Linked DNA regions of Homo sapiens. The protein of the gene in region 1 interacts with the protein of each later gene in a pairwise test. Each region holds a gene or a part of one and is shown in the gene's direction. Other genes may lie near its edges.

What was found.
Region 2: the proteins of FAM9B (region 1) and CDC42EP4 interact in binary tests that used the Homo sapiens proteins (3 or more experiments, as listed by UniProt).
Region 3: the proteins of FAM9B (region 1) and PAGE3 interact in binary tests that used the Homo sapiens proteins (3 or more experiments, as listed by UniProt).
Region 4: the proteins of FAM9B (region 1) and MAB21L3 interact in binary tests that used the Homo sapiens proteins (3 or more experiments, as listed by UniProt).
Region 5: the proteins of FAM9B (region 1) and RMND1 interact in binary tests that used the Homo sapiens proteins (3 or more experiments, as listed by UniProt).
Region 6: the proteins of FAM9B (region 1) and FERD3L interact in binary tests that used the Homo sapiens proteins (3 or more experiments, as listed by UniProt).
Region 7: the proteins of FAM9B (region 1) and NOL4 interact in binary tests that used the Homo sapiens proteins (3 or more experiments, as listed by UniProt).

The regions. Positions count from the first base shown.
Region 1 is NC_000023.11:9,027,628-9,031,127, reverse strand, and holds part of FAM9B (protein FAM9B), read left to right. Parts: intron 1-531; coding exon of another isoform or gene 532-560; exon of another isoform or gene 561-767; coding exon 768-867; intron 868-1,709; coding exon 1,710-1,821; intron 1,822-3,161; coding exon 3,162-3,260; intron 3,261-3,500. UniProt on the Homo sapiens protein: May play a role in meiosis.
Region 2 is NC_000017.11:73,285,563-73,288,001, reverse strand, and holds part of CDC42EP4 (cdc42 effector protein 4), read left to right. Parts: intron 1-1,389; 5' UTR 1,390-1,501; coding exon 1,502-2,439. UniProt on the Homo sapiens protein: Probably involved in the organization of the actin cytoskeleton. May act downstream of CDC42 to induce actin filament assembly leading to cell shape changes. Induces pseudopodia formation, when overexpressed in fibroblasts.
Region 3 is NC_000023.11:55,257,915-55,261,916, reverse strand, and holds the end of PAGE3 (P antigen family member 3), read left to right. Parts: intron 1-1,257; coding exon 1,258-1,383; intron 1,384-3,388; coding exon 3,389-3,411; 3' UTR 3,412-3,502; downstream 3,503-4,002.
Region 4 is NC_000001.11:116,114,399-116,117,898, forward strand, and holds part of MAB21L3 (protein mab-21-like 3), read left to right. Parts: intron 1-3,500.
Region 5 is NC_000006.12:151,417,627-151,421,126, reverse strand, and holds part of RMND1 (required for meiotic nuclear division protein 1 homolog), read left to right. Parts: intron 1-3,500. UniProt on the Homo sapiens protein: Required for mitochondrial translation, possibly by coordinating the assembly or maintenance of the mitochondrial ribosome.
Region 6 is NC_000007.14:19,144,282-19,146,917, reverse strand, and holds FERD3L (fer3-like protein), read left to right. Parts: upstream 1-1,496; 5' UTR 1,497-1,555; coding exon 1,556-2,056; 3' UTR 2,057-2,136; downstream 2,137-2,636. UniProt on the Homo sapiens protein: Transcription factor that binds to the E-box and functions as inhibitor of transcription. DNA binding requires dimerization with an E protein. Inhibits transcription activation by ASCL1/MASH1 by sequestering E proteins.
Region 7 is NC_000018.10:34,022,414-34,025,913, reverse strand, and holds part of NOL4 (nucleolar protein 4), read left to right. Parts: intron 1-2,262; coding exon of another isoform or gene 2,263-2,474; intron 2,475-3,500.

The DNA.
Region 1 (3,500 bases):
GTATGTAAAAAATATTTGCATTGTGGTACAAATCTTTTATGATTGCTGAAAATTATTCTTAGCAATTGATGGTAGAGCTCTGATGTGAAATCATGTTTAGGAAAGCATTCCTTGCAGTATTACAGTTTTCTGAAACACAGCACTATGGGTACAAATGTCATAAAAAGCTCCAAGAAAACATTTCAAAAGTGTTTTTGAATGTATTTCTTTACCTAAACCTAAATTTTTATACTCATGGCCATTGCTTCTTTTATTAAAATACAGTTAATAGCATCAATCACTAGATTGCTTAAAAATGCTTTTCTTATTGTGCATTAAGTTATTTCTACCCTTTTGAGGGTTCTATTATATAAGATACTTTTTTGTGTGCTTTACGTAATGAATTGTGCAGTATTTCATGGAAGCATCTCCTTTGAATTGTAGGACATTTTATAAATGTAGAAATTAAAGTCTGTGCTTATAACTCTTTCTGCACATTTAAAAAATAGAGACTTTTAATTATTTGCTTTTTTTCATCATCTGTCAATTAAGTGATTTTCAGTTATACCAACTGGAATTGAAATGCGAATGTTAATACCTGAAAGGTTTTACAGAAAATAAGTGAGTAAATCTTGCTTTTTGAAATGATCTTTGCATTTTATATTTTAAATATCCTTCTGAAATTGCTGAACCATAAAGTCCCATATTGATGTCAGTATATGCAAAGAAACTACTTTTCAACATTAACTTTTAATCCATTTTCATTTACTATCTAACTGACATTAAAGAGGATCTTACTGCAAAAAGAAAAAGGATGAAAATGGATAAAACTTGCAGCAAAACAAAGAACAAAAGTAAACATGCTTTGAGAAAAAAGCAACTTAAAAGGTATGACTGTTGGCTTTTTTGCATAATGATATTTATATCATTTCTTTGTATTAGTTGGTGCAAATAATTTCAAAAACTATCCTGTACATATTGGCGTCTCTAGTGAACAACATATTTTACTTGATTGTTCTCTAAGTAGGTAAGTTTCTTTAGTTTTATAACCTCAGTTTAACAGAATTAAGAGATATTACCTAGAAGCCAATGAAGATGACCTCTTTTTGCCTTCCAGATAAAAATAGCCTTCTTGTAAAATTAATGTTTATCCATTTCTAGAAATATGGTAGCTGCATATAAGATAAATGTTCTCAATGTTTAGTCTGTAGATCCTTAACGATACTCAATTATGTAGAAAGGGATAACCTTATGTTGTAAATAAGTTATCTATTTTAGTTAAATTGTTTTCACTATTTCTTTTACAAAATCATTGGTGTGCCAAAGTGGAGAAATAGTTAAGTGAAGTTTTTCTTTTGGGAAATCTTATGGGATGAATGGCTATGATATTCTTGAACCTACTTATGAGAACCCATATGTTATTCAGTAAGAGGAAATGGAAAGTAAACTGCTCTTAGAGAAAATGTTTCTGGGAAAGTTATAGTGCAGTAAACCCTCCTTTGTCTTCAGCAGGTAAAGAATGTAAGATAGCTGCTCTAGTAGTCAGGAAGAAAAGAATCCTTTCAAAATGAGAGTAACTCATTTCACTTTTTTCCAAAAAGAAGATTTCAGCTGCTATTACTCCCTTGCTACTTTATAGTATAAATTATGTCAAGTCAGTTTGGGTTTGAATAGGATTAATTTTTCATCTCTCTATGACGTATGACCGTGTTACTTATTATGTGTTACAGGCAGAAACGTGATTATATACATTCTCTGAAGTTGCTAAATGTCCTTGAAGAATACATCACAGACGAGCAGAAAGAGGAAGAAGAAGAAGAGGGAGAAGAGGAAGAACTAATTGTTGGTATCATGCTTAGCTTTATGTATAACCTGTTATGTCAGTGTCTCAGGTAGTAATAGTTCATGCAGAAATCCAGCAAAGAAGGAAGAGCGCATGAGCCCAGAGAGGGGGGCCCGTTAGTGGACTAATGGACTAGGGGAATATAATTGCCACGCAGCATTAGGGGTCCAACTGAAGTCAGCATCATAACGATGAAGAAGTTAAAGTAAGCCCAGTTGGCATATTTGTGCAAGCACAGCTGTAGGGTTGGAATTTCCTGGGTCGGGGTGTAGCCGAGCAGATTGATAGAGGGAGAGTTGGGCAGGGAATAGATGCAGAGATGGGGATATGATGACTGGCTGTGGAATTTCAGCTGGGACTGAGTTATCTGAGCACACGGGAGTGGGCAATGGGCAGTAAAAAGTGCTCCATTCAGTGGGTGTCAGGTCCCAACAGACTCCTGAGCTGTAGTACTGAAGTGAGTGACCTACGATGGCAGGGAGGTAGTGGCTGTATGTTGGGAAGTTGGAGAAACAGCTGAGTGCAGTGGTCAAGGGCTGGGACTATGCATCCACACTGCTTGGGATTCTAGCTTGACCATTGCTAGCTCGGAAACCATGGAAAAATTATTTATCTCAGCTTGACCATTGCTAGCTCGGAAACCATGGGCAAATTATCTTATCTACGAAAGGAGACATGGTAAGAGTACCTACGTCAGAGTTGTTTGGAGGATCAAAGGGTTTCTGTGTAACAGGTTTATTTAAGTTTTTCAGGATGTGATCTGACCCATGGTTGCTCTTTATCATTGCTATTATTAATATTACGTAGGTGTTGAAGTCATTGGGAATGACAAAATCTAGGGGATGACTGTGTGAGTGAGTGCCACGTAGAGGAGAGGAGAACACTGTTGTTGGAGATTAGGTCAGGGTGCAGAAAGGCAATCATTATTGGGTGGTTCATCTATGTGCATATTGAAATGACCGAGATTTAATACATGCTTAAAATCTTAGAAAGAATTTTTCTTAGTTAATTTCTGTATAGATCTTACCTATCTGTGGTCAACAAATTATAGGAAGGTTCATCAAATACTCTTCATTGGAAATCAAGAATTAGGACATATGTGTTGAATGTGTAAAAGTAAGAAAATTCTTTACTTAATGACTGATAAAAAAGGTTAATACATCATTTTAGCATGTTATTGGTGAACACAATTGTTTAAAATTGGTCCTAAATGTTGTCTAAAAGAAAGTGTTCAGAGGTATTGATTTAAACAGTATTCCTTTAAAGCTAATGCAGAATTATGTTTTGTAAGTATTAAAATTTACCCAATTTTTATCACTATTTTGTTTTGGGATTCTAGAGAATATTTCAAGAACAACAGAAGAAGTGGCAACAATATAGAAGTGTTAGGAGAGAGAGGCTGAAAGAGATGAAGCTGCTACGTGACCAATTCGTAAAGGTCTGTTCTATTTGGTAACATAATACATTATAAAATACAACACGTGCATAATAGAAGACAGTCTGCTTGTTTCTGAATGTATGGAAAGACATTTGATTATACATTTCAAATTACTTAGCATTTTCACTTTGAATGTATTGTTCCAGATATAATATAATTGGTAAATGTATTTTTAGGATTCATGAATAGTTTGTGGGAGTTATTTAGAACAGGAAAAGGTAAATTGGAAATTTTACCTAG
Region 2 (2,439 bases), on another chromosome or scaffold:
ACTGAGGAGCGAGGTGGGGACTAGTCATTGGATCAAGGGGTCTGCACTGGGTAGGGCGTCATGTGGATGGGTTTTGTTTTAGCCAAGAGGTGAAGGATGGACAGGAGGGAGACCAACAGGGAGACCTGTCAGGCTGATGTCAGGGGCCAGGTGGGGTGTGGTGGGCTTGTGTGACGCAGCGGCAGGCATGCGGAGGAAGCACCCAGCATCTGAGTTTTGCAGTGGGAAGAGTGGGTCTGGACTGGGGGTGCCTCTCAGAACTGTGCTGCTGGCTGGACTGGGAGGCAGGCAGGTACCTGGTGTCCAAGCATCACCTCTCACCCACCATACTTTGTTAAATCCCTGCACCCATCTCTCCCCAACCTGCCCAGCTCTGCTGGGCTTAGTATTTGGGGCAAGCCCCTCTAGGGAAGAGAGGGGCTGGTTTGGCCCCAATGCTGAACTTCAACTTGGCCCTTGTCAGGAGCTGTGAGAGTGGTGCCTCCAGGCTCCTGGGCTCTACCTCTGCTGTTTTTTGGATTTCTGGTGAATCACCTAGGAATCAGTCTGCAGATCCTGGGGGGACGAAGTCATTTAGGGTCCAGTCCCTGCCTCCCACTCCCCTAATGATGAAAGAAACTGGAAGTTGCCCAATCTTGATCTCCCCGAGACACCAGAAGGTGGACCCTCAGCAAAGAGCCTGGGGCTCCACAGTGGAGACGTCACAGGCGGGATCCTCATTTATGGGATACCAAGCGAAGGCTGAAAGGCTGGGGAGCTGGTTCTGTGGGTCCCAGCAGCCCCACCCCAGTTCTGATTCAGAAAGAGGACTGTGCCGCCCACGCAGGGGGAGGAGCTGGTCAGCCTCTGTCTCCCTGAGCCCGTCCTGTCCTTTCCCTTCTCTCTCTGAGGACCAGGACTCAGGGTGGGGTGTCCACTAACTCCACAGGGATCGAGGTTAGACAGCAGGAAGAACTTACAGCACATCTCCAGGCTGACTGTTCATAGGAGCCAACTCATAGACTCCATCTCTTCCCTGGCTTGCTGCCTGGAATTGCTGGATTTACCTTCGCGTCCTTAAATGTGGTCATGTTTACTCTGGCAGCATCCTGGCTTGCAGGGGCAGGGGAGGCATTGTCTTCTGCAAGAAAGGTTCTGTCTCTCTCAAGTTTCAGGGAAAGTGTGTCCGAGGCTACTGGAACTCTAACCAGATTTGCAAAATCACTCCTCTACTCTGAATGCCTGCGGATGAAGAAACAGGCAGGGTTATACCATGGATTGCTGGCTTATTTCACAGCATTTAACTTTGGTAGGAGCGCTGGGGTTTAAATGACAGTCCCCTGGCAAAGAGGCTTTTGTGCCGTGTGGCCAGCCCGCGTTAATCCTTTGCCTCTCATTCTCTGCTTGCAGCCTTATGATCTCCTCATTGCGTCCCCCTCTGCCCACTGGACTTGGACTTCAGATCTGACCCCAGACCTGCCGGCTACCTCGGGAGGGCCCACCTCCCCGCCCATCCAGCAAGATGCCAATCCTCAAGCAACTGGTGTCCAGCTCGGTGCACTCCAAGCGCCGTTCCCGAGCGGACCTCACGGCCGAGATGATCAGCGCCCCGCTGGGCGACTTCCGCCACACCATGCACGTTGGCCGGGCCGGAGACGCCTTTGGGGACACCTCCTTCCTCAATAGCAAGGCTGGCGAGCCCGACGGCGAGTCCTTGGACGAACAGCCCTCTTCTTCATCTTCCAAACGCAGTCTCCTGTCCAGGAAGTTCCGGGGCAGCAAGCGGTCACAGTCGGTGACCAGGGGGGAGCGGGAGCAGCGTGACATGCTGGGCTCCCTGCGGGACTCGGCCCTGTTTGTCAAGAATGCCATGTCCCTGCCCCAGCTCAATGAGAAGGAGGCCGCGGAGAAGGGCACCAGTAAGCTGCCCAAGAGCCTGTCATCCAGCCCCGTGAAGAAGGCCAATGACGGGGAGGGCGGCGATGAGGAGGCGGGCACGGAGGAGGCAGTGCCCCGTCGGAATGGGGCCGCGGGTCCACATTCCCCTGACCCCCTCCTCGATGAGCAGGCCTTTGGGGATCTGACAGATCTGCCTGTCGTGCCCAAGGCCACGTACGGGCTGAAGCATGCGGAGTCCATCATGTCCTTCCACATCGACCTGGGGCCCTCCATGCTGGGTGACGTCCTCAGCATCATGGACAAGGAGGAGTGGGACCCCGAGGAGGGGGAGGGTGGTTACCATGGCGATGAGGGCGCCGCTGGCACCATCACCCAGGCTCCCCCGTACGCCGTGGCGGCCCCTCCCCTGGCAAGGCAGGAAGGCAAGGCTGGCCCAGACTTGCCCTCCCTCCCCTCCCATGCTCTGGAGGATGAGGGGTGGGCAGCAGCGGCCCCCAGCCCCGGCTCAGCCCGCAGCATGGGCAGCCACACCACACGGGACAGCAGCTCCCTCTCCAGCTG
Region 3 (4,002 bases), about 46 Mb from region 1:
CCCCAATAGGTTATGGGTGTCATGACTATAAGATATGTCATACGCTTACAAATCCATTCAGCTAATTCTTCATAAAATTATATTTTAAATGTAATTTAAATCTTATCCATGGTGTAAAGTTCTGATTTCCTGGATGGCTGATGTTTATTCCCCTTACAGCACTATGGTAAAATATAAGGACGGCACATGTTTTGTGGTTTGTCCTTATAATGTCATTTAAAATGGAGGTTTTTGTAATGCAGGAAAACAAATACATGAAGTCCAATCCATCTACAGCCATACCACCCTGAATGCACCCAGTCTTGTCTGAAGTCCAATCCTAGTTGCTGTTAATGTTGTCAAAAATAACTCTTGTCTTCCTGAACTCCAACATAGTTGTCATTTATTCTTTTTTATTTTTAATTTATGTTTTGTAAAAATATAAAATTTACAGAAAAGTTGCAAGATTATTATAATCAACTCATATGCTTTTCACCTAGATTAACTAATGTTTAGAGTTTTGCCACATTGATTTCATACCCACTATTCTATTATATAGCCATATTCTCTTGGATAACCCCTGTATGTTTATTAAATTTGGGGAATTCAACAATGAAAAATGCAGTTGTTTAATATATAGCTTATATTCAAATTTCCCCAGTTGTCCTAATAATTTCCCTTATAGTTTTTTTTCTGATTCCAGGATCATGCATTACATATAGTTGTCAATCCTATTTAATCTTTTTTAATCTGGACCAGTTCTTCACTCTTTCTTCGTCTTTCATGACACTGGTATTTTTTAAGAGAATGGACCAGTTGTTTTGCAGAGCGTTCATCAGTATAGGCTGTATTTTTAAATACTTTTTTTTCACTCAACACTTATTCACAGTGACTCATGCCATGCAATATGTAGGCTTTAGGGATGTAAATACTAATGAAAGAGATGATTTCAGCCTTGAGCTCACAATCTAGTTAGACAGACTCAAATGAATCACTAATTTGAAATGATAAGTACAATAACATATACCTACAGAGGGTTCAACTAATCTGTCTGGGGCAGTTGTGGGAAAAGAAAAGGGTGATAATATTTGGAAAATTTTGTTTTCTTTTTCTGGTAAGAGTCCTGAAATAATGTTCTTGAAATTCTTATGCATTGCGTGTATTACCACACTAGCCTATAGGCTTTTATTTCATAACATTGAGGGAGTGAATATTATCATTCTTTTATTTATATTTTATGTTTTACAACTTAAATTGGTAATGTTTTTTATTTTTAAGTGCTAGGCCTGGCAGCCTATCTCTGGGAACTGACTCGGTCAAAGACTGGGGGTGAACGTGGAGATGGTCCTAATGTCAAGGGAGAATTTCTGCCAAATCTGGAGCCTGTTAAAATACCAGAAGCAGGTAAGTTATTCATTAAAAATGCAAATTATGGGGTTTCTGTTTTCAAAAATACTATATATTTTATAATATAGAGGTACCACTACTGCTAATATAATTTAACAGAGTTCATATATAAAGATTCTTTGAAAGATAGTTCAGTCCCCAAAAGCCTGACTAATAAACAAGCACCATCATAGATCCTACCACATTGGGTCAAAGCCACATTCAATTATAAAATGTGAAGGTATTTTCTTACTTTTTAGTATCAGTTCCTAAACCAACAGCTAGTAATATCAGATACTTTTATAAAGGTCTGCTTTTAATAAATACCTAATGAATTTGTAACAGATATTCACTGTATGAAACATGCTGAGGCAATTAAGTAGGCTCTAATCCAAGCTCTAACAAAATTTCACTGACTTTGGGCAAATTCCTTATCTTCTAAACCCATATTTGCTCTTATAAAAATGGGTCAAAATCAAATATATTAAAATTTGAGTAATCAACTTAAGTACGTTTTACACATGTTTTTTCCAAACTTCTAGGCATTAGTTATATGAGCTTCTGAATTTAATATAAACACTTAGTGTTTAGGAAAGAAATTATCTTGCATTAGTCTACTGCTTTTGCTCTACATTCCTGATCCATTCCATTAGAATATTTAGATTAAAAATATTTTTCAGGCTATGTTCAGGAACCTATTCAACATATACTCATAGGAAGATCATTGCTTTAAATACATGTTATTAAAAAATAAAAATATAAAATTATATGAGCATTCAATATAAAAAATAAGAAAAAGGCACAAGATAAACATAAGGGAGAAGGAAAAATATACTTAATAAAAGACAGGTATAAGTCTTTATTTAAGGGAAATAATTCAACTAGTAAATAAAAGAGATTTTCAACATATCTATGAATAGAGGATCCCCTAGTTTACATAATGTTGAAGAAAATGGGCAAAGCTCAAGTATACACAATAAAAAATAGGAACAAGACAGGACAGATATTGAATGTGTAATATAATTAAAAGTGGATACATTCTTGAGCTCTAAACAATTTTCAAAATTTGATGCAATGTTTGATATGCTAGCAAAACATAAAATCATTTACTATACCACAGTAGTAAATGAATATTTAAACATCATAACATGGATGAACTTTTAAAACTTGCCAGAATTTTCCATCAAAAGTATTTATCATTTAGAAACAAAAAAAAAAGCTATTGTTTGTTTATTTGTATTTGGCTTTTCTAGATTCCTCAGTCTCTTCTCTTTCTCTCTCTCCTCCTCTCCCTCTCCTTCTGATCCCCGTTTTGCCAAATTGTGAGAATCATTACTATTTCTTTTTAACACTTCATCTATAATAATAATGGCTTGCAACCAGTGTGACGATATAATTTATTGGACAAACTGGAATATTTTTAACTGTGCAAAGAGGCATTATTGATAATTATACTAGAACCACAGGTGAAAACAGAGACAAATGGTTAACCTACTTAAAACAACCATATAAAGAGTAAACTAATCAAAAACATTTTAGCATTTTCCCATAACAGAAACAAAACAAATATAATACTAGCCTTTCTATTTATGCCACTTAAGCACTTTCAAATGTGTCATTACTGTTTGAGCTATCCTATATTCAAAACATTATTTCAAATTTCTTTTGTTTCCTAAGTTTTATGTTTGCTTATGTTTGGTTAGTTGGATTTTTTTTTTCTAAAATTACATGCAGTTTTTAGTTTCTAGTTAAAACTTTCTTTAAATAGGTTCATTTGATCAAATCATTTCGAACTCAAACTCTTTCTTATACACTAGAAAAATGAGTGGGATTTTAAAATATTGTTAATATACCTGAAAGCCTACCTTCAAAGTCTCTATAGCGGTTTAACTGGATATAAGCCAGAGGGTTACCTTGTTATAGTTCATTTCATAAAACCAAAACTATGCCTTTTTTCAACCCGTAGTGTCATCATAAAAAGTTCTGCTAAAAAATACTCTCAACTATTATGTTTATCTTATAGGTGAAGGGCAACCATCGGTTTAAATGAAGACAAGCTGAAACCATACATGCAGTCTTTATGTTGGAAACTTCACCAGTAAAATTCTCTCAATAAAGTTTCACAATTGTCTGCAAAGAAGTCTTGTGCAACTTATGTCAAACTAGGAATAATTAGGTGTTTCATGCTATTGAAAATTGTATCTTTTTTGAAAATTTATATTTTGTTTGAGCTGGTATATAGAGATATAATTTTATGTATTGATTTTTCTCTCCAGAAACCTTGCTAAATATGCTTATTAATTCCAAAAGTTTCTCTCTAGGTCCTTTTTGATTGTCAACATATACAATCATGCCATCTGTGAGTAATAATACTTTTCAGTCTGCCTTTTAAAGTATGTTACTCTTCATTTCCTTAATTCATTTTATGACATTGGACAGACTCATCCAGTACAATGTGGAATTGAACTGGTGATAGTGGACACCCTCATCTTATTCCTGATAAGAAATGGAAAATATTCAACATTTTACCATGATTTACTGTAGATTTTACTTGCAGATATGCTTTATCAGAAGTTCCTTCTATTTCTAGTTTCCTGAGAGTATTCTTCTTGGATATATGTTGACTTTCATCGACTG
Region 4 (3,500 bases), on another chromosome or scaffold:
TGATGTACATATTGCCTCCATTTTTAGAGGAGGAAACAGAGGCTTGTGGAGATTAAATAACTTGTCCAAAGTTACACAGCTAAATTGAGAGGGTACTGAAGTTTCAGCCTTGTCTTCTTTACTCCAAAGGCCGAACGTCCTCTGCCAAACTCCTCTATATCTCTGCAAACACATACTAAGCACCTGCTTTGTGCAAAATACTGTGCTACGGTTTGAGGGTAGACCAAGGCCTGAGATGTGGCCTGCTAAATGAAAGAGAAATTTTGGTTTTGGTCTCTAGGATAGCCCTGTCCCATCTGCAGATTTTGTACATAACCCCAAAGGAAGAAGGAGGGAATTTCACATGCAGTCAGGCAAGTGCTTAATAGAATGCATGGTAGACCGTAAGGGATGCAGTAGAGATTTCAACAGATTGCTGGAGGAGCACGGTGCATTAGTTGTGATGGGAAAGGTGTCTTACAGAAAGAAGAGTAGAGACAAAGCCTTGGAGGAAGTGTAGGGTTTTAATAAGTGGAGAAGTATAGGAAAGGTCTTCCAGGCTAAGGGAACCCCGTTCAAACATTCAAGGTGTATTTCATTCCCAGTCACCTTTTTCTTTTGGGGAGCAGAACAGGGCAGTGGTTACAAATATGGGCTTTGGAAGGCTGCTACCTGTGTTCTGTAACTTACTAACTTTGGGAACCTGGGCAAATTACTTAAATATTCTGAACTTTGGTTTCCTCATCTATAAAATGGGGATAATCATAGCATCCACCTTAAAGAATGATGGGTAGGCAGGAATGAGCCTACTCTTATAAAATGCCTTGCACACAGGAAGGACTAAATAATCTTAGTTTCACGGTAATGCTGCTGCTACAGCTTCTGCTACATTTGGGGGCTGCAAATATTCTGCGTGACCCAAGCATTTGATTCATGGAAGAATTAGTCTACAAAGGAAGGGATATGATGGTGGAAAGCCTATGGTCTCGTGCGTATCTATCACTGGATTTAACTTTCCATTTCTTTACATTATTAGCCCCTGAAAGACAGAGATGATGCCAGTTTTTGTTTTGTTGAAATTTTTCTAACTGATGATTGGATTTCATGCAATTCTGGAATTAAAGGTCTGACTTCTTGTTTTCTGGAAGGAAGTCCTCAGCCTTTTCTTCTCAGTAACACTCATTGGGAATGACATACACATAGTCTGCATGGTCATGGGTGTGATCAGGCCTGTGTGACATTCCTGGCATGCTACTTAGCACCACCACTCTGTCTCCATTGCAAGGAAGCGTATCGGAATGCAAGTGAGTCAGAGTGATATTATTATAGGGGATAACCTTAAATCCCCATAATTTATATTTGAAGCAGTAAATTATTCATGAACTTGAGCTATTAATAGCAGCAAATGACTTGTGGGGCAACAATGAACCTGATGCTGTGGTTAAGGAGGAGGAGGGGAAAGCAGCCCAAGATGGGACAAGGACCTTGACAGCATGGAGACATGCCTGGGAAGAGCAAGGCCCAAACAACATTTGTTTCCATGTTTTGCCATGAACTAAGTTTGGTGACAAGGTTGCCTCAAGGCTGCCTTGAAGCTGCAACTGGTATCTTGCTGGCTTCCTAAAGTTTGAGAGGCAGTAAAGGATTTCCAGGGTTGGGCTTGCAATGGGTGTCTACTTGTGTTAGAGCCTCCTTCTTTAGATCACTGTACAGCTGCCCCAACCCCACTGCCTGCTTTTCCACACCCTGAAATGAACTTCTTGCTGTATCTGTCTAGGGTGTGGCCAGAATAAGTGGAGAGAAACAGTCTGGGGGTTCTGTGTTGTCACACCATGAGGGTGACAAGAGGTGTCTGGCACTAAGCCTGGAAACCCCCAGCACAAATCACTTCTGGGGCTACCAAATAGCACGGTGATGCTGTGTGGGTAAGAACTTATTGCAGGAAGTGTAGCCAGAGATGTGGGGAGGGACAAGGCTGCCCGCCACCTAGAGAAAGAGGCTTCTGCTCAGGTCCCACAGCAGGAGCATCACTGTCTGGCCCTTGCTGCATGACCCTTTGTGCTTGTTAGATGCCAGAACAGTTGCTGATGCCTAAATACATGGAGACCTAGGACTCCTTATTTCATGAGTCTTGACTTTAAATTGAAGGCATTTTTAGGTTCAGGAAGAGGATAAAGGGTAGGCCGTACTTCTGGTACATCAGTACTTAAGGGTGTGGCAAAGTGTGATGGAAAGAAGTGTTGGAGAGCCTGTCTAATTCTACATCTAACTGCCGGTGTGATGTTAGGAAAGCTGCCTTGTCACTCTGGTCCTCCATAAAGTCACACCAGACGAGGCAATTTCTGAGGTCTCTTCCATTTCTAAGATCCTGAATCTAAGTTGCAGCAGAAGTGATGGAGGAAGAAAATTAAAACTGGAATTTGTGGTTCTAGGTCTCAAAAAGCATTATCTTATTCTGACTTTCACCTTTGGTAATCAAAACAGGTCATAAGGGTGAACTAATAACCTGTGTAACAAGTGAGAGATTATAGTTGTTTTCCAGGAGTGCGTGATCTTGTCCTGCTCGGTAAGAATTTCACCATCAAATGAGGGCACAATTTGTAGAATAGATTTACAATGAAGTACTTTTTCCAATAGGCTACTCTTCACGTGTGTTATGTGCATACATACACACATGTACATACATACACACATGCACACACACTCTTAAGCTTCTATTTAAAAATGATTTGATGGTGATGAATTTTTCATTAGTTTATTAACTCAGGAATCAAAATATACATACATATATATATATATATATATATATATATATGTATAGTCACTGCTATGTTACTAACATTCAAGTTCTATGGAATTACATCCGTGGGGCTGGCAGATTCAGGAGGCTAGTCTTGGCCTTCAACACGTTCTGAGAACTTAACTATTAGAGAATACTATTTCTCAACCACTCTGCCTGCAATGTTCTATCTAATTAACACTTTTATTACTTTTCTCCACTGTACCTGCTCAGACTTCAGGTCCCTGAAGTGGCCTAATGTTCCCTATTCTACCACTAGCTTTATCCGTTCTTTATTCCGGCTGGAAGATATAGCCCACTGCTGAAACCCTCTGTTGCTTTTTTATCTTTATCCATCTCTTGCCCAGCAAACTCCAATCTTAGCACCTCAACTCTTACCTTTGGAGGGCTAAGAGGTGGTGGAGCAGATCTCACTAACTGAACTTACTGATATCCCACAGCCTCAGGGACTCAGCCTCAGCCAAGTCTTGACACTGTCTGGTTATCTTTACTCATGCACCTAAACAGTCTCTCATTCCTTATAGCAGCTATCTCAGCAGTCTATCGCCTGAAATCTCTTGCCTTCCACTTCACTCTTAGCTCATTAACATCTCCCACTCTATAAAGAACATAGACGTCAGACTGGAAATCTCTCTGATTTTCACTGCCCCCTACCCTTTTATCTGTATCTGCATGCACCCTTTTCCCCTTCTTTCTTTCTGCCACACCAAGATGAATTCCT
Region 5 (3,500 bases), on another chromosome or scaffold:
CATTTCATTGATTATAAGCAGGGAGAACTCTTACCCATTAGAAGTAGTTGGGCTGTGTTAAGACTGTACTGAAAGAAATCACGCATGTGCAAAAGAGATCACGATTCATCTACATTAAACCCACATTAAGGAGCACAGTAGGTGTTCTTTGAAGGTAGAAAGACATATTCCTGAATTTGGTTAATGGGAATTCTCTGTAAAAATATATCACTGCATCATAATGCTAAATAGGCTTAATTGCTACAGAAAAGTTTCTTTGAATCTGAGACACCAAGATGCCACTGGAGAGAAAAACTGCTGCCAGTTAAACTATGACAATACTTTTTTTATCAGAGGATTAAAATTTTACACTTACTGAAATATCTTTTAATCTTAGCTGGATATAAATTATATCACATTCCCTCTTGGGCATATATGAAAAGGAAAGCATAAGAAAATAAATTATTTAAGGCAAAGACAAGTAAGTCTCAAGTGCCACCTGTCAGACACCATTAATTTTAAGATGCCTCGAGATGTTAAAATGGGAATAACTATGTCTAAAAACTGATGAATCATTTTAAATAAGTATCTGGAAAGGTTTTCAGCTTTTATTATTCTTGTAGTTGTCCCAGGATTTACGGAATGAAACATCCCGGATGTTGGTGTTTTTCTCACAGGCAGCATTGTCCAGTTTATCCCTTCTAGCATGTGGAATGAGTTACCAGAGCTCACTGCAAATGTTCACCTAAGACTTGTTTTTCCATATTCTCCTTAGATGCTCTGCCTGGAGAGAAGTGATACAGTGTTTCATTGTCTGTGTATCTCTCATAGCTCAGGACCTATAGTTCAGGGTACCAACAAAACTTAAAAACCCATCCATCAGGAGCATCCTGCAGCATATCTGAAGCCTCAAATTCTCTGAGAAGTAGGGTAGAGAGATTCTTCTCTCCTGTTCTCTTGGTCATGCAAGCAGAAATTGATGTAGTGAATTATAATATCCAAACTGAATAGTTAGGACTAAATATACGTAGGTTTGTGAATAGTTTCTATAAAGGCTTACTTTTACTATCCTGTTTCCTTACCTGTACAATAAAAATGCTTATTTGTTAATATAAGGAATGTGATACATCTGTGAAAATAAACATGGCAGATAATATTAGATTAAAAAACTAAATCTAAATTTATATAGGGTATGATCCCATTTGTGTAAGCAAATAAAAATATTCATGTTTATCTTTATATGCATACACATGTACATGTGTTTGCTTGCACACACATGCATGTATGAATACAGAAAGATCTGGAAGTACACAGCAAAGTGTCTCTACAGGCCTGTCCTTGGGGAGAATAAAGGATTTAAGTAGTGTGGTAGCATAAGAGAGCCTACCATTTTTCTGAATCCTTCTCTAGGATATTTTCCTTTTTTTTTTAATCGTGAACAGGTATGTATGTGTTACTTTTTTTTTTTTTTTTTTTAAACAGGGTCTTGCTTGTCACCCAGACTAGAGTGCAGTGGCATGATCATAGCTCACCAAAGCCTTGATCTCCTGGGCTCAGGGATTCCTCCTGCCTCACCCTCCTGGGTAGCTGGGACCACAGGAGTGCTCCACCACACCCAGCTAATTTTAAAAATAATTTGTAGAGACAGGGTCTCAAACCCTTGCTCAAGCAATCCTCCTCCCTAGGCCTCCCAAAGTGCTGGGATTACAGGTGTGAGCCACCACATCAGTTTATGTGTACTTTCATAACTTAGATTTTTATTTAGTTAAACATCTAAGTGTAAGGCCAGGCACGGTGGCTCACACCTGTAATGCCAGCACTTTGGGAGGCTGAGACAGGTGGATTGCTTGAGGCTGGGAGCTCGAGACCAGCCTGGCTAACATGATGAAACCCCATCTCTACCAAAAATACAAAAATTAGCCAGGAATGGTGGTGTGCGCCTGTAATCCCAGCTTCTTGGGAGGCTGAGGCATGAGAATTGGTTGAACCCAGGAGGCGAAGGTTGCAGTGGAGCCAGGATCATGCCACTGCACTCCAGCCTGGGCGACAGAGCAAGATTCTGTCTCAAAAAAGAAAAAGGCTGGGCACGGTGGCTCACATCTGTAATCCCAACACTTTGGGAGGCCGAGGCCAGTGGATCATCTGAGGTCAGGAGTTCAAGACCAGCCTGACCAACATGGAGAAACCCCATCTTTACTAAAAATACAAAATTAGCCGGGCGTGGTGGCACATGCCTGTAATCCTAGCTACTCGGGAGGCTGAGGCAGGAGAATTGCTTGAACCCAAGAGGTGGAGGTTGTGGTGAGCCAAGATCGCGCCAATACACTCCAGCCTGGGCAACAAGAACAAAACTCTGTCTCAGAAAAAAAAGTAAGCACAGACTTCTTATATTAAAATGTAGAAATTAAGAGAGAGAGTGTGTATGTTTATGCTTGCTTGTCTAGTGTTTGCATAAACACTGGAAGGATACAGCGGAAACTAGAAGGGATTACTGATAGGGAAAGATACAGATAAGAATAAGAGTTAAGATTTATCAATTTTTACCTGTTTATATCTTGATCTGCTCAGGAGGCTGAGGCAGGAAGATCACTTGAGCCCAGGAGTTTGAGGCTGCGGTAAGCTATGATTGTGTCACTGCACCCCAAACTGGGTGACATATGAAGACATTATCTCTAAAAAAATTTTTTAAATAAAAAACAAAAAAGTGTGGACATATTAAATTTTTTTTTTATTTGAGATGGGGTCTCACTATGTTGCCTAGGCTGGAGTACAGTGTCACAGTCTTGGCTCACTGCAGCCTCTGCCTCCGAGGTTCACATGATCCTCCCACCTCAGCCTCCCAAGTAGCTGGGACTACAGGCATACACCACCACACCTGGCTAGTTCTTGTATTTTTTGTAGAGATAGGGTTTCGCTGTGCTGTCCAGGTTGGTCTTGAACTCACAGACTCGAGCAATCTGCCCGCCTTGGCCTTCCAAAGTGCTGGGATTACAGGCATGAACCACCATGCCTGGCCCTAAAATTTTTAATAAAAAAAGTTTAGGCTGGGAATGGTGGCTCACACCTGTAATCCCAGCACTTTGGGAGGCTGAGGTAGGCAGATCACGTGAGGTCAGGAGTTCGAGACCAGCCTGGCCAACTTGGTAAAACCCTTTACTAAAAATACAAAAAATTAGCCAGGTGTGATGGTAGGCACCTGTAATCCCAGCTACTTGGGAGGCTGAGGCAGGAGAATTGCTTAAATCTGGGAGGCAGAGGTTGCAGTGAGCTGAGATCATGCCATTGTACTCCAGCCTGGGTGACAAGAGTGACTCTGTCTCAAAAAAAAAAAAAAAATTGAAAACAAAATGAGTTTTTTTCTGTGTACTTCATAAATAATGTTGGTATTAAAGATTGAATTAATTTGGTTCAGAAGTTTGAAACTCATTTGTAAATTTTATTTACATGTTTGTTGGCAGTATTTTGCAAAGGTCAGCATTAACAAATGTTTTCAGCCACATGCAATGCCACATGCCTGTAGT
Region 6 (2,636 bases), on another chromosome or scaffold:
ACTGAGTGAACCATCATAACCACAACTTACCCCCTTAATAGGGACTGACGTCCTGGGCAGTTCTCTTTTGAACCGGGATGTTTCTACATTCATCTTTTTAGGCTATTTCTTCCAATCTACCTTTAAAATTATCTTCTAATCTGTCACTTTGACACAATGGGTCTTTTAAATAAATCTTTACACAGTACTGAATAATTAAGTAAATATAGTTATTGGCAAACAAAGAAAAAGAACCTTTTTGTTAAAATATTTGGGATACTCGAGATAATATAAAATGAGTAATCTCTTATTTTTCTTATGCCAAATTTAAAATCTCTTTCTTTTCTCAAAAATAACGATCTAACGATAGCCAAAAACTCCCTTAAATATATTTCAATAAATCATTGTTTCTGCACTTAAGTCTTACTGTAGGACAATACAAATCAATGAGGAAAATACGCCAGATGGAAGTGTTAGGTTTTTTTCTTTGTTCGGGAACAAATACTCGATCCGCAATTTAAAAGTCCGAAGACTCCTCAGCAGAGGGTGAGCTGATTGACTCTTTGGCTTATCAAGGGCAAATCGCATTTCTGAAAAGAGCTTGAAGTGGTTTTGTTTGTGAGGAGAGTTTGCTTTGTCCCCCACACTGAAAAGTATACAGCAAAGCCCGAGCATAGAAAATATCCTGAGCTTAAATTTCTCATTTTATTGCCATCATAACTTTTCCTCTTGGAATAAAATCCTCTATTTTATATGAGTAGGAGGTAAAGGTAGGGAAAGGAAAGTCAAGTATCTCAATTGTTACGCTGATTGCATCCAAACAGACTTTAGAAGTCAGGGTTTGTAACGTGGCAGGAGAGCTGTTTGCGATGCCCTGGAAAGAAAAGAAAGCCGGTTCCAACAGCGACTCTGGGGAATGCACTCTCGGTCCCCCTGCCATGCTTACTTAAGCTAATTGAAGGTCTTGCCTTTCAGCAGCCGCTGCACTGGGATACCAGACAAACAGCTCCCCTTGATGCCAGGCAGGCAGGGCCCCTCTTCAGGACATCATTAAAAGCACATGCACTTGCTCCACATCCATTGGCAGATGGTGGCAAGATTCAAGACTCCTACCCTGAAGTCAAGGAGAAGCCATCGCGGTGGAAAACATCCTCGCTTTGAAAATCCAACACGAAATTAAAGAACTACACGAGATAAGGAGCCTGGAGAACATTAGTTGGCTGCAGGGGTGAAGACAGACACAAAAAGCACAGCAGGTAAGAGCTGGGGGTTGTTGCCAACAAGGAACTGTCCCGGGTGGCGCAGAGAAAAGGATCTCAGAACTGGAGCCCTGTCCCTTTGAGTCTTCCATGCGTGCTCAAGCTTGTCATCTTCCATAAGCTTCGAGAGAAGGGACGTTGTCAGAGCATTCCTTATCGGTGCGACTAATCCTGTTATCAGCTTGGTTATAAATATTTAATGTTCCCTGGCCTTTCGGTGATGGTGCCCCATCAGATTCAAGGCTGTTAAGAATCCCCACCAGCAACCTCGCCCCTCCCTGCGGAAAACCGATGAGAGGCAGGGCCAAGCCGAAGCGATGGCGGCCTATCCGGAGAGCTGCGTGGACACTACGGTGCTGGACTTCGTCGCAGACCTGTCCCTGGCCTCCCCGAGACGCCCTCTCCTCTGCGACTTCGCACCCGGGGTCTCCTTGGGGGACCCAGCCCTTGCGCTCCGAGAGGGAAGACCCAGGAGGATGGCGCGGTTTGAAGAGGGGGACCCAGAAGAAGAGGAGTGCGAAGTGGACCAGGGGGACGGAGAAGAGGAGGAGGAAGAGGAGCGCGGAAGAGGTGTCTCCCTATTAGGCCGCCCCAAGAGGAAAAGGGTGATCACCTACGCCCAGCGCCAGGCCGCCAACATCCGCGAAAGGAAGCGGATGTTCAACCTCAACGAGGCCTTTGACCAGCTGCGGAGGAAGGTGCCCACGTTTGCTTACGAGAAAAGGCTGTCCCGGATCGAGACCCTCCGCCTGGCCATCGTCTATATCTCCTTCATGACCGAGCTCTTGGAGAGCTGTGAGAAGAAGGAAAGCGGCTGAGCCTGGTGTGGAGAGTCTGCCCTTCCTCGTCTGGTAGTGCTGGGGTGTGTCAGGACCGGGCACTGGGTGAGGCTAAAGGGCCGGGAGGGAGGCCCCAAGACAGAACGTCTGGTCTTCTGGAGGTCGGGGTCGAGATTGTAAGATCCCCACATGCGCTGAGCAGAGTGGCTGCTGTAGAGTTCATATCTACGCGACCGCCCTAAGTGAAGTCGGGGTCAGGGGCGAGCGGGGAAGTCAGAGAGCGTGAGGCTGAGTCGGGGCCGTTCAGGCTGCTCCTAAGAGCTTCCGTGGGCTGGGTGGGTGGGAAGTGAACCCTCCTCGCAAATGGCAGACTTTGGAGCTTCTATAAAATCTAACCTCTCTTCTTTACATTTTTTTTTTCATAGAGATAATAAAGTAGAAATTCTTACGTTTTTAAAAAGCCTGAAGGGTCGGTGGTACGCCATCCCCAGCAGGCGCTCCAGCGGGCGCCTGCGTGGAGGGTCTGAAGCAGACGCCGCAAGGGTGCGGGGGTGCGAGCTTTTCTGCTAGCCAGAGGGTTCTGCCTGGTCCTCCGAGGCTTGTCCAGGAACTGAGGAAA
Region 7 (3,500 bases), on another chromosome or scaffold:
TAGGAGAGTTTAGGAGAATACCTAAAGGAGTATACATTCTAATCATTCACCTCTAAGTTACTTTAAAAACATGGGTACTTAACAGGTCTAGTATGATCACAGGGTTTCTCTCTCCGCACAAACTCCCAAAACACAATACACTTCACCTGCTTGCTAATGGCTGAAAATACCAAGAGAAAAAGCCTTTCATTCTGCAATTAGAGATAAAAGGTTTAAATTACAACTGCCTAGTTGAAGTAACATTTTTCTGTGAGGGAATTTCAGATAAAGGATAATCAATCAATCAATCTGTCAATCCATTACTCAGTAAAATGACATACATAGAGCCAGTGTGCACACAAATAGCTGGAGAATTAGTGATCAAGAGGGGAAAGAGAACATGCAGGACCCAGAGGACACACTTTGATGGTTTTGACAATTCTTCCCAGGGTGATACTCTTTACCTGCTATGTGAGCAAAACTGATAGTGACTTCAGCACATGTGAATGCTTATATGATAGGCAGCTCTACTTTAGAAGGGGAGTAAAGATTCTTGATTTTCCAAACATACACTTGACCCAGGTAAAGGCCTTTTCTTCCAGGGGTTTGTTAACCAAGGTAATTAAGTTTATCCTTTTCCCCCAGATAAGGTTTATAGCTCCTTAGTTACACATTTACCTTTAATTCTTTGGGCAAGATCATATCCTTTCATGAGTCTTTTTAAAAAATGGGACCATTCTGGCAGTAAGTATTTTTGTTTATTAGTTTTGATAAAGGGAAAGAATATTTGGCTTTTGGCTTCTTTTTCTGAAATTTTTCCAGATTTTTATAAAATGAGATTAAAATATCCTCAGATTCAGCCTTACTGAACCCAGAATTGAGGGCTGTTAGTCATCTTTAGTTCTGTTGCTATCCACAGTTGCCTCCTTTAATTGCGTATTCTACTGGGTAGTTGTTGGATATCATCTACATTAATTTCTCACATATGGCTCCTAAGCACTTATATGAGAAATGCTTCTAGATTCCCTGACCTCAACCAAAATAAATTAAACCAAGATTTCTAGCCTTTATTGTGTTAGAGGTTTTAGTGCCCACATGGATCCTACAGATACATATTTTTAATCATCTCCCCCAGGAAATTCCAAAGCAATTAAAGTTTGAGAACTACTAATACACATCTATTATTCGAAATATACTATGTATATTATTCCAGTATAGTATTCCAGTATACTGTGCTGGAAAGTGCTACCAAGGATTCATTCAGCCTACATTACCTGCTTTGTGTTGCAGAGTAAAGGCAGTTATGGTGTAAGATTTAAGGTATGGCCTAGTGATAGATAAGCTTCCTTTGTTGTTGTTGTTGTTGTTTGTTTTGTTTTGAGCCTGGGAAAAGACAGAGCAGAGACCACAAGGGGTAAAGGAGAGTTGCACTTAAACTATTTTGCAATTAGATTTCAAAGGAATTTTTAATTTTTTTTCTTTTTTGGATATGAAGGTACTAATCTTTTCAGCAAGGCTATTTACATCTATATTTTGGACCTAATACTTAGTTTTACGGTAAGATATGAAAGAGAAGTTTTCTAAGGGGGGCATCAAAGGACTAGAGGAGGAAAATTGTGGTGAATTTGGGGAAAACAATAAAATCTTTGTGGACCCTGTGAGCATCTGACCTGAATTTTGGGACTAAATTTCCAAGTACTAATGTTAAAATGAGGATTTTATATATATATATATATATATTTTTTTTTTTTTTCCTGTTTATTTTGCCTAAGGCACTTGGCCTAAAGGACATGATGCTGAGCTACTGAAAGTAACTGAATAAGAAAGTAGGTCAGGTACTTTGGGAGATTACATATACACACACACACTTAAATACACACACAGGTACACATATACATTAACATAATATTTTAGGCCAATTCTCTTCATACAGAGAGAGCTAATTGTTGAATATGATGCTGATGAAACCACTTTTCTACAAAATGCTGGTGGGATAACTTAACAGTATTTCTAGGGTCTCTACTAATTCATGGAGGGAATGGGGAGTAGCAAAAGAGAAACAATAAAATGAATAATCTGCCATTTACTGTGTTACTAGACCTTCTAGACAAGAAGGAGTCTCATCTGTGCTCGCAGAGATAGCACAATAATTCTCCAACACTAAATCCATCCCATCAAAAGTAGCCACAGAACAAGTTAACTCCCGACGTCCAACTGCCCTCCTGATGTCACTAGATTCCACACTTCCTTGTCATCACATTCCACATTCTCCTCTGTTGCTAGGTACCCTGGGCACTCTTATTTTCCAAAGCTCCAGGTGCTGTTTTCCTTGGGACTCATATACAGAGTCTTTGGTTCAAATGCTATGGTACCCAGGCTGAAACCTTGAGAGAAGAACCACCGCCTTGGCCCAGTGAACCTGAAGGCCATACCCACAGACCTAAATACTGCACCTTCTGTGTAGCAGCTACTCAGGATGGACCAAACTATGTTGGGTAAGGAAGCAGATTACCCCTTTAAAGTGATGACCTGATATGAATTGGTTACAGGAGTCTGAGATCCGCGATTTTAAATTCTTAAAAAGTATCTTTTAGGGAGAGAGGGAAAGAGAATAAAAATGGTTAACATGATTACATGAAACTCAGCAATAGAAAATTCTTAATTTGTCCTCAGTTTAATATCTGCTTACTGTTCTATATGGTATTTTTAAAATAAAGACATCAAAAACTTTGTTTTAAATTTGGATTTATAGGACAGTGTTGTGAGACATTATTGTTTTTTACCATTTAAATTGCAAAATATGTGAGTATGTATATTTGATACAAATGAGTAAATCATGTATTTGTTTTTCTTAAAACATACTGATTTACTCAGGAATGAAATATGTAACGCTGTTGAATTTAGTTACCTTGGTAACATCTGGAGTGAACTACTCCATCTAAAAATATTTTCTACCTTATTGTTTATACTTTTTATTGATATAAAAACAAGGCACTTATTAAAGCCTTTCCTGACAAATAATAATGTTTACCTTACCTGAAAAATAAATGAATGATATACCATTTATTAGATATACATAATGATTTCAGATTGAAGAAACAGATGTAGGATGTTTAGTTTTTAACCAAGATAGATATTGGATTTGTCTTATGCTAACGTAGATTTTATTTTAAAATATAATATATACTTAGGGTTATTTAACCTAATAACATATTGACAAAGCTTTCATACATTAAATGTTACTATATTTTTTAAAGGATTCTAGAACACAAATGTTAAATCACTTTTTTTCATGAATTAAAAATTGGAGTTGAATATTTTCATTGTGCTCTTCTTTGGACTTTTGTGGGAAATAATAAAGTAATAAAAATCATCTTCATAATTTAGCGTAAGAATTTGAATTGGCATAAAAAGAACATGCACACATTTATCTAAATTACTTATATAAGTCATCCCCTTAATTCTGCATTTCAGAAACCCTAGACATTTCATGTTAAAATAATATTTTGAATCCCTGGATT